Regions from separate parts of the Homo sapiens genome. Here region 2 is linked to region 1. Evidence: fine-mapped expression QTL. Tissue or cell type: whole blood. Region 1 holds a variant in brackets; the other region holds the start of a gene. All regions are shown on one strand. Distances are from middle to middle.

The links. PIP is the estimated chance that this variant, and not a neighbour inherited with it, causes the effect.
Region 2: it holds the start of MXI1, and the variant in region 1 is fine-mapped to the expression of MXI1 in whole blood (TOPMed, PIP above 0.99).

What each region holds. Positions count from the first base shown.
Region 1 is chr10:110,267,682-110,271,844 of GRCh38, reverse strand. All of the region lies in intron 3 of MXI1 (MAX interactor 1, dimerization protein), which reads right to left. Among named protein-coding and RNA genes, the nearest start is that of SMNDC1, 35 kb to the left of the region's middle. The variant A/T (reference allele first, on the strand shown) is at 2,198.
Region 2 is chr10:110,205,211-110,209,373 of GRCh38, reverse strand. It overlaps MXI1 (MAX interactor 1, dimerization protein), which reads right to left and starts at 1,769. Exons shown (of 6, transcript NM_130439.3): 1 at 1,292-1,769. The coding sequence starts at 1,565. RefSeq lists a silencer at 1,519-1,598 and an enhancer at 3,188-3,688.

The DNA.
Region 1 (4,163 bases):
GAAATATGAAGAACATGAAGTGCCACTCAGTCAATAACAATTATCATCAGTAAACAATAGTGCCTTATTATACCACTGAGCTAAATGCTATAACGATTTTTCAAGTTGTCAGTAGTATAATCTTTACCTGTTTGAAGACTATAATTTAGTCCTCTGCCTACCACCTTTCCAGCCTCATTTCCCATAACTCATACCCTTGCAAACCTCTTCCATAACCAAATGTGCTTTTATACTTGCCAATATCTCTACCTGGAATGCATTCTCTCCAAATGTCCACCTGGTGGGCATCTAACTCATTTTCAGGCCATGGCCAAACAATTTCTTCCACAAGATCATCCTTGCCATACTCCTTCCTCAGATGATACTTGATTTCATACTAATCACACTGTATTTCAATTGAGAGTGAATCCATACTTTTAGTCATTTCTGTTTTTCAAATAAACAGAATGACTGGCACACAGTGGGGAGGAGAGATGTAATACTTCTAGTGGATGTTTCTGGGACTCTCTAACTCACCAAAGTTGAGGTAACAATCAACACCAGGACCTCCAAACAGTATAATCAGATGCCAGGCCAGCATTTGTGAGAGATCTATTTATGAATGCCAGAACTCTTAACCTTTTTTTTTTCTGGTGCAGCTGAAATCACCAGCAAATGTTAATAAGGTGCATACCACCAAAGATGTCTACATGTAGAGTAACCAACAGTCTCCAACCTAACTCTTGATGAGAGTCAACACTTTTTTTTTTTTTTGAGACGTAGTTTCACTCTGTTGCCCAAGCTGGAGTGCAGTGGCGCGATCTCGGCTCACTGCAACCTCCGCCTCCCAGGCTCAAGCAATTATCCTGCCTCAGCCTCCTGAGTAGCTGGGATTACAGGCATGTGCCACCAAGCCTAATTTTTTTTTATTTTATTTTACTAGAGACGGGGTTTCACCATATTGCCCAGGGTGGTTTCGGACTCCTGAGCTCAGGCAATCTGCCCGCCTCGGCCTCCCAAAGTGCTAGGATTATAGGCATGAGCCACCGCAACCGGCCAACACCTTTTTTAATAGTGAAGCAAAGGGTTTAAGAACTGCAGCTTTTACAACAGAATGACTTTATCAAAGTATTTACAGTGAAAGGGGCCTAGGACTAGGAAAACAAACAGCTAAGAAAACCAAGGTATGAGAAGGGAAAGTCTAAAAAGCAATATTCCACAATGCAAAGAAGAAAAAAATTAAGTCAACAGTTCTTAATCCCATGTAATAAATGAGAAACTAGTGTATGCTTACCAGATCCATGGACTGCTTGCTAAGTTGAAGACTATAGTGCAGAACATATAAACAACTATTTTTTTTAATTATCCTGCATTCATGTCTAAGGAAGACTTCATTTTTGACAGCCTCATTTGAAAAAAAAAAAAATAATTAAATCTTGTTCCAGAGGCATTTGTTCTTCACTGGAACTCCCACAAGGAACCCAAACTCCAAAGTGATTTAACAGAAATTGCTCACTTGACATCCATTCTGTGCTAAATTTAGTTTCTATGCATACTTCCCCTCTCTTATCTGTTTATAAGGATTTAGTTAAAAAGAAAAACTTGATCATTCATTCACCATATTTCTTCTTTGGTCACACAAGAACTTTCTGTATTCCAAGTTTCAAAGTCTGGGAAATAGGGCTACATCACTGGAGAAAACAGTGGCAATTTGTTCTAAATACAAAATAGCTTATTTTCCTTTGGCAACTTTCCAGGGGTCTGGGTAGAGGGAAGGGATACTCCTCTCTAGAGAGATCAGGCTCTGAACCTGGACTACTGTCAAAACTTAGCCATCGATGGGAGAGAATATTTTTTAATTATCTTTCACATCAATTTGGAAACTGATTAAAGATTTTTGCCTTATTAACAGTTTTTCTACTCTTTGGCCTTTTGTTGGTGTTCATCTCTATTCTGGCAGCCCCCATTGGCTGATTTAATGGTACCAAGGGGCTGAGAAGTGTTGCTGTCCAAAAGAAAAAGCATTCTCTCACAGGGACTGGGAAGGCAATCTGCAATCACAACAGTAGCTACTTGTTAACTTTCTATTTGAAACACAGTGATGTCAATAGTATTGTACCCTGCCAGCCACCATGGGGTAAAGTACATTTTGAAACCAAAACAAACTTCCTACGTGCTGGCAAGTGAGATCTGAGACGCAGTGATAATGTTCTACAAG[A/T]CACTGACCTAATTTTATGTACAAAATGCAAGAATTAAGTCTTCTCTTCTACAAAAGTTTAAGTCTAACTCTCACAGCTCTATTCCCACCCAGAGCCCAGTGTAACTGCTTTATTGTATCAAATTATTGTCCAGGATGGAAGAGGGAAATGACGAAATACTGTTACTGATCTCTAATTAAAATGGTGATCTTACATAGCACAAAACAGCACATTTAAAGAATGCTTTGTAATATAGCTGTTCATCTAGAAGCAGAAAATGAAAATAGCAAAGCACCTTTAAAAGTGGCCCTACTAATAAGATGTGAGTTGTATAATAGCTCATTTTAAGGGGAATATTCATATAGGAGGAAAGACATTTTATTAAATGGAACAGGAACAATCTGGCCCAAGAATTAATTCATCCCTGGAAGGCGAATATTCATAATTTGTACTGAATATGAGCAACCTGAAATAGAGAGCTAAACGATTAAAAGTGGTAACCATGCTTACTACTGGCAGATGGCAAATGGTTTGGCATTGCTGGACATCTGCCAATCCAGTCAAGCCAGCCAGGAATTATTTTTAAAGTCCCATTTTAGAACAATTTTCCCAAAATCAAAATGCAGTTTGTTTTTTGGTGAGGAGGAGATAAAATTTGCAGTAGAAAAAGGGTAACAAAGAGGAATTGTTGGCCAGTGTGTATGTGTGTATGTGTTGTTGTTGTTGTTAATAACTGAAGCATTTACAGGCCATTTGCAACCTCTGGAAAAATAAAATTTACAGAATTTAAAATACGCCATAGTCCCTGATAATAATAGAGAATCAATGTTTTGGTATGTCTTTTTATTTCTAAATTACTTAACTGTTTTGACCTCTCTTTCATTATACTGTATCACTTTTTTTTTTTCCTGACCACAAAGGGCCCAACTGAAGAGTAGTTTTTGAGAGTAACTTTTGGAGGCAGCCTAGCATAACACAACACCTGGCACCAATCCTGGGCATGCCCTCCTCTGATAAGGCAGAAATTTTCTCAGTGTTATATATAGTAGGGCACTTACAGATTAGCACTTTTAGGTAGATAGAAAGTGAACATGCCTTAAGAACTACTTTATTTTTTAAAACCCTTCTGAAAAGGGAAAGGTGTTTGATAGATTAACAACAATTACAATTATCTCCTCTTTATCAAGTAAAAGACTGGGTTCAAGTTATATCTGGGTTGCAACATTACACTGTGTGACTTGCTTCTATTTATATTTGTCTAAATCTTAGTTTGACTCTCCTCTAGAAAAGCCCAGGAAAAGATTAAATGAGAGAGGAATCAAAGCTCTAGTATTTATTTTATATGATTCCAGCCTCAGCTCAATACCATTACAGTTTTCTAAGGACTGCTACACAAGTGCTATTATTTTCATTTCATCAATAGCTCAGGAGAACAGCCCTGAAAAATCTATACAGTTCCAGGGATTTGAGAAAAGAAGGAAGAGACAGGTGGAGGGGAACATGTTTTATTTTGTTACCATTGCCAGTCAATATTTTAGTTGTTCATCAGGCAGGTTGTGTGGCTCTCTCGCCTAAGTATATTCCAACAGCAAGAACATATTGACCACTACTCCAACTAAAGAAGCCAGTAGAGTATGGAGGTTAAATTTTCCAATCTTGGCTACATTTCCTTTCAGATACTGCAGGATGAAAGTTCTAAAACATCTTTCAGGATCACCAACAACTGTTATCTCACAGAACAAAAGGCATATGAAGGACACTTTGACATTTTGGAAAATAAGACCCAACATATATTCTGTATTGTCTTCTAAGAATATCAATATTTCTTGAACATTGCAAATCAGCCAAACCCATGCTCCCTCATTCATCTGACCCAATATATGCTAGCAGTAAATTCCAGCTGTTTTCAAGGACATTCTAAGGGCCCCATCACCAAATTGCTTCTTTAAGAAAAATTCTTTTCCATTATAAAAATAGCAGTCTTGA
Region 2 (4,163 bases), 62 kb after region 1:
AATCGGGACCTTTCTTCTTTCTTTCTCTCTCTCTCACACACACACGCGCACACGTACACACACACACTCGCGCCTCATTGATCTTCCTACTTGTTCGGACACATTAAACATCCCGGTTTCCCCCTATCTGTCGGTCTGTCTGCCTAGTTCCCTTCCTCCTTTTCACAGCTATTATTCTGAGGACGGTGCTGGATACGCTGCACACGCGTGCCCCCGTTAGGGCGCTGAGTCGACTGCCTGGGGAAAGCTGGGTGACCTGGCTGGTAGGGGCAAAAATGAAACAAATAAATACAAAAAAGAAGCCAGGCCAGGGTGGGGTTCCCAGCACACCCCCACCCACGCACTACTATCCACGTGAATCTGGGGGTGGGCGGGTGGGGGGAGTAGAAATCGACCAGGAAGGCGTTTGCCTTGCTTGCCCTGTGCGCTCACTCAAGAGCCGTCTCCCGGAAAATAAAGAAAAAGCACAGAACAGCCCACACCTTCTTCCCCAACTATTGTTTCTCAAAGATCCCAAAGTTTCCTTCTAGCCGCGTCCCCACGGCCAAGTTTCCCGGGCTCAGGACGGCGTGTCCGGGGCGAGCTGCTGGCGTTGCTTGGCCCCGCCGGCCTCCTTCTTTGGGGGGGGGGGGGCGGCGGTGGCACCCCACGGCAACGGACGTGCAGGGGGACTGTGTCCGTAGACGTGATGGCCTGAGCCCAGTCCTGCTGCTAGAGGGAAGGAAAAAGGCGAAGTAGGAGGGAGAGAGAGAGACAGAGCCGAGCCCACGCCGTGGAGAGCTGTTTGGTTGTTATTGTTGTAGTGTGTGTCTGTGTGTTTTCTTTCTGGAACCTCTGAGCTCTGCCTATGGTTTCCAACTTTCGGCTTCTAATCCCCACCCCACCCAGGAACGAGCAACAGAAAAACAACACTTGTCTGCCTGAGAAGGCTCCGGAAAAAAAAAAAAAAAAAAGGAAGAAAAGCGACCTCAAAGAGATGAGCTCTCGGCTCAGTTGTCAGCAAACAACAACACTCCCCCGCTCCTCCGCTGGGCCATCCTCCCAGCCCCAGCCCGCCGGAGAGGACAGACCGACGCACCGACAGGCCCCTCTCCCCCTCGCCCGTCTTTGTTACATCTTTAGCAGCTTTGTGCGTGCGTGTCCTTTCTCCGGTGTCATCGGCTTTACTGCCAAGGGCTGGATGTGTATGTTGGGCGGGGGGGGGACGGGCCGAGCTCGCAACAGGGGTCGCCCAAGTGGGCGAGAAAGAAAGAACCGGGCGCCGAGGAAGAGCAGGGGCCCCCAAACTTACTTTTGTTTTCTTTCTCGATCTGCTCCAGGTAGCTGGCGGCCTCGAGCAGAATCTGCACGTTCTGCAGAAAAGTGTTGATGTGCTTCTCCATCGAGTTCTCGCTGGTGTTGAAAATGTCTGAGAAGGGGCACCTGGGCTTGGCCCCAGCGGGGTCCTCGGGCAGGGCCGGGGGCTGGGGCGCGGCCACGGCGGGGGGCACAGCCGGGGGCGCGGCGGGGGCCAGCCCCGCGCCCTCGCAGCGCGCCTCCTTGCGCGGCCGCCCGCGTTTGCCCATGGAGGAGCGGGGGTCCGCCGAGCTCGTCCTCTAACGGGGCTGCGCGGCCCGGCCGAGCTCCGGGCCCCCAGGGAGACCCGGCCGGCTGGAGCAGAGAAGGCGCCGGGGCGAAAAGCCGGCCTGACTTCCCGAGCCTCGCTGCCTGCAGTTGTGTGTGTGAGTGTATGGGAGTGTGTGTCGGTCTCGCTGTGAGTCTGTGTGTATGGGAGATTGAATGAACCTACAGGACAGACGGAGGCACTCTGGCGCCTGGGTCCTAGTGCGAGCCTGTCGCCATCGGACCGGTCAAAATAAAAGGTGGAGACTAGCGAGCGAGGCAGGGACCGCCCCTGCCCGTCCCCGCAGGCTTCCCTGCCTCTCCCCAAGGCTTACCACAGAGTAGAACACTGTCTTTTAACCGGAATGGAAAAAAATACCTGATGTCTCTGGGTGCACCTGCATAAAAACAAACTACTTTTTTCACAGAAAAATAATGCCTCAGAAAGTGTCCAGCACAATGCCTGGCACATAGTTAGGTCCCCATACATGGTGGCTGCTATGACTTAAAAATAAATAAATAAAAGCTCCCCAATCCAAATGGGAAGAAGGGAACCAGTGTGTAACCAGAAGATCCCCCCACCCCCAACACAAACACTCCTACTCACAGACACACATACATACGTAATCACGCACACACTTGCGAGGCACCTGTGTGTGCCTTCACACAGTCAAATGAAATCCCAGGCCGTCCAAATCCGAGTTACAGATTTACTCATGCCTTTCTCCCTTCAAATGCAAAGTTATTTTCCAGAAGTGGGAGGAGATGTCAGCATCCCTCTCCACACTCCTCTGCCCAGCCTTGGTTCAGCTGTGCAAAGCTCACACCAGGATGCCTCCACACCTGGCTCCCTTTAATTTGAGAGGCAGAAGTGGCAGCTCAGGAACCACCCCCCTCCCCAGCTGAATTCCACCTTTTGCCTCTGAAAACCCCTACCCCAGCTGACATTGTTTCACTGCCACTGCTGTCCGCAATCATGGATGCTTTCCAGCCCTGGGAAGTACTGGAGGTGTCAGGGGATGATTGAAGGCTGCTCTAGGGTGCCATAGGAAAGGGTTCAAATCCCAGCTCTGCTGCATACAGACTGTGTGAGCTTGGACAAGTCCCTTAACCTCTCTTGGCCTAAGTTTCCACATCATTGAAATGTGTGATAAGATGCTTGTGTATTGTATCTGACTTAGCACACTCTGGCCCATGGTAAGCTCTTTTTCTTCCAATCCAGACCCAGGCAAGAGCCTGAGTCCCCTATTCTGATGTAACTTGTATCTAAGAAAGGAACAAGATGTAGTGAACAAGACTCTTCTGCACTTCCTTGGAAAATATCTCTATGACAAGCCCATCTAAATATGGTTACTTTGCAAGGTCACCTGGAGTTTTCCTCCAGGGGAACCATTTATATAGAGGACAAAGACAATGCTGCCCCCTGGAGGTGTGCGATGCAGCCACCCTACTCAAAGGCAGCTTCATACACATTGTCATAAAAACTCTTGATGGCCGGACGCAGTGGCTCACGCCTGTAATCCCAGCACTTTGGGAGGCCAAAGCGGGCAGATCACCTGAGGTTGGGAGTTCGCGACCAGCCTGACCAACATAGAGAAACGCTGTCTCTACCAAAAATACAAAATTAGCCGGGCGTGGTGGCGCATGCCTGTAATCCCAGCTACTCCGGAGGCTGAGGCAGGAGAATGGCGTGAACCCGGGAGGCGGAGCTTGTAGTGAGCCGAGATAGCGCCACTGCACTCCAGCCTGGGCGACAGAGCCAGACTCCGTCTCAAAAAAAAAAAAAAAAAAAGTTTATCTTCCATTATTAGAACAATTACTGATTTTTTGCTTCTGTGAGAACCACAACCTGAGTTATTCGTGTTGAAATGCCTGTAAACATCTAAAAATGTTAGGAAGACCTCATGTATGCACAGTTTCAAACAAGCTTTCTCCAATGCCATTTTGCAAAAACTGGCCCTTGTGTGAAACAGCTCTGATCTCTCTTGCCCCAAATGAAAGATGGTACTGAGACAATGAACCAGCTAAGCCCAGAGAAAACCTTGCTTTCTCTTTAATTGCCCATTGGTGGCATGGGTCAGATGTATAGTACTGCAACATACATGCACCACCAAGACAGGCACACGCATGCATGAGTGCCATGGTGGGGGAAGGGTGTTTTGTAATTATTTATTTATCCCTGTTCCATCTCTCATAGGTCTGCGAGTTTCAGAAAGCCCAGTGGGAATCTTCAAGCTGGGCCACGGATCTGACCAAAGCCAAAATAAACAATGGCTTGAAGAAAATCTACAAAAAAGTGCTGATTTGCACTATTCCCACAGTCGGCCACAGCCCCCACCATCATTCCCATGGAAAACACCACGGCTGGTGCCAAATCAAGTTTTCCCCCCATCATAGGGGCATTGTTTTTTGTTATTATGTGAGTTCTTAGCATCAGACAATGGCACCACAAGAGACACAGTGGAAGCAGGAGAAATGCCTTTTTGTTTCACAAAGTCTGTGTTACTGTGCCCCCAGAGTCTCGCATATAGTTTAGTTGCATATATTCATTTTGGTAACAC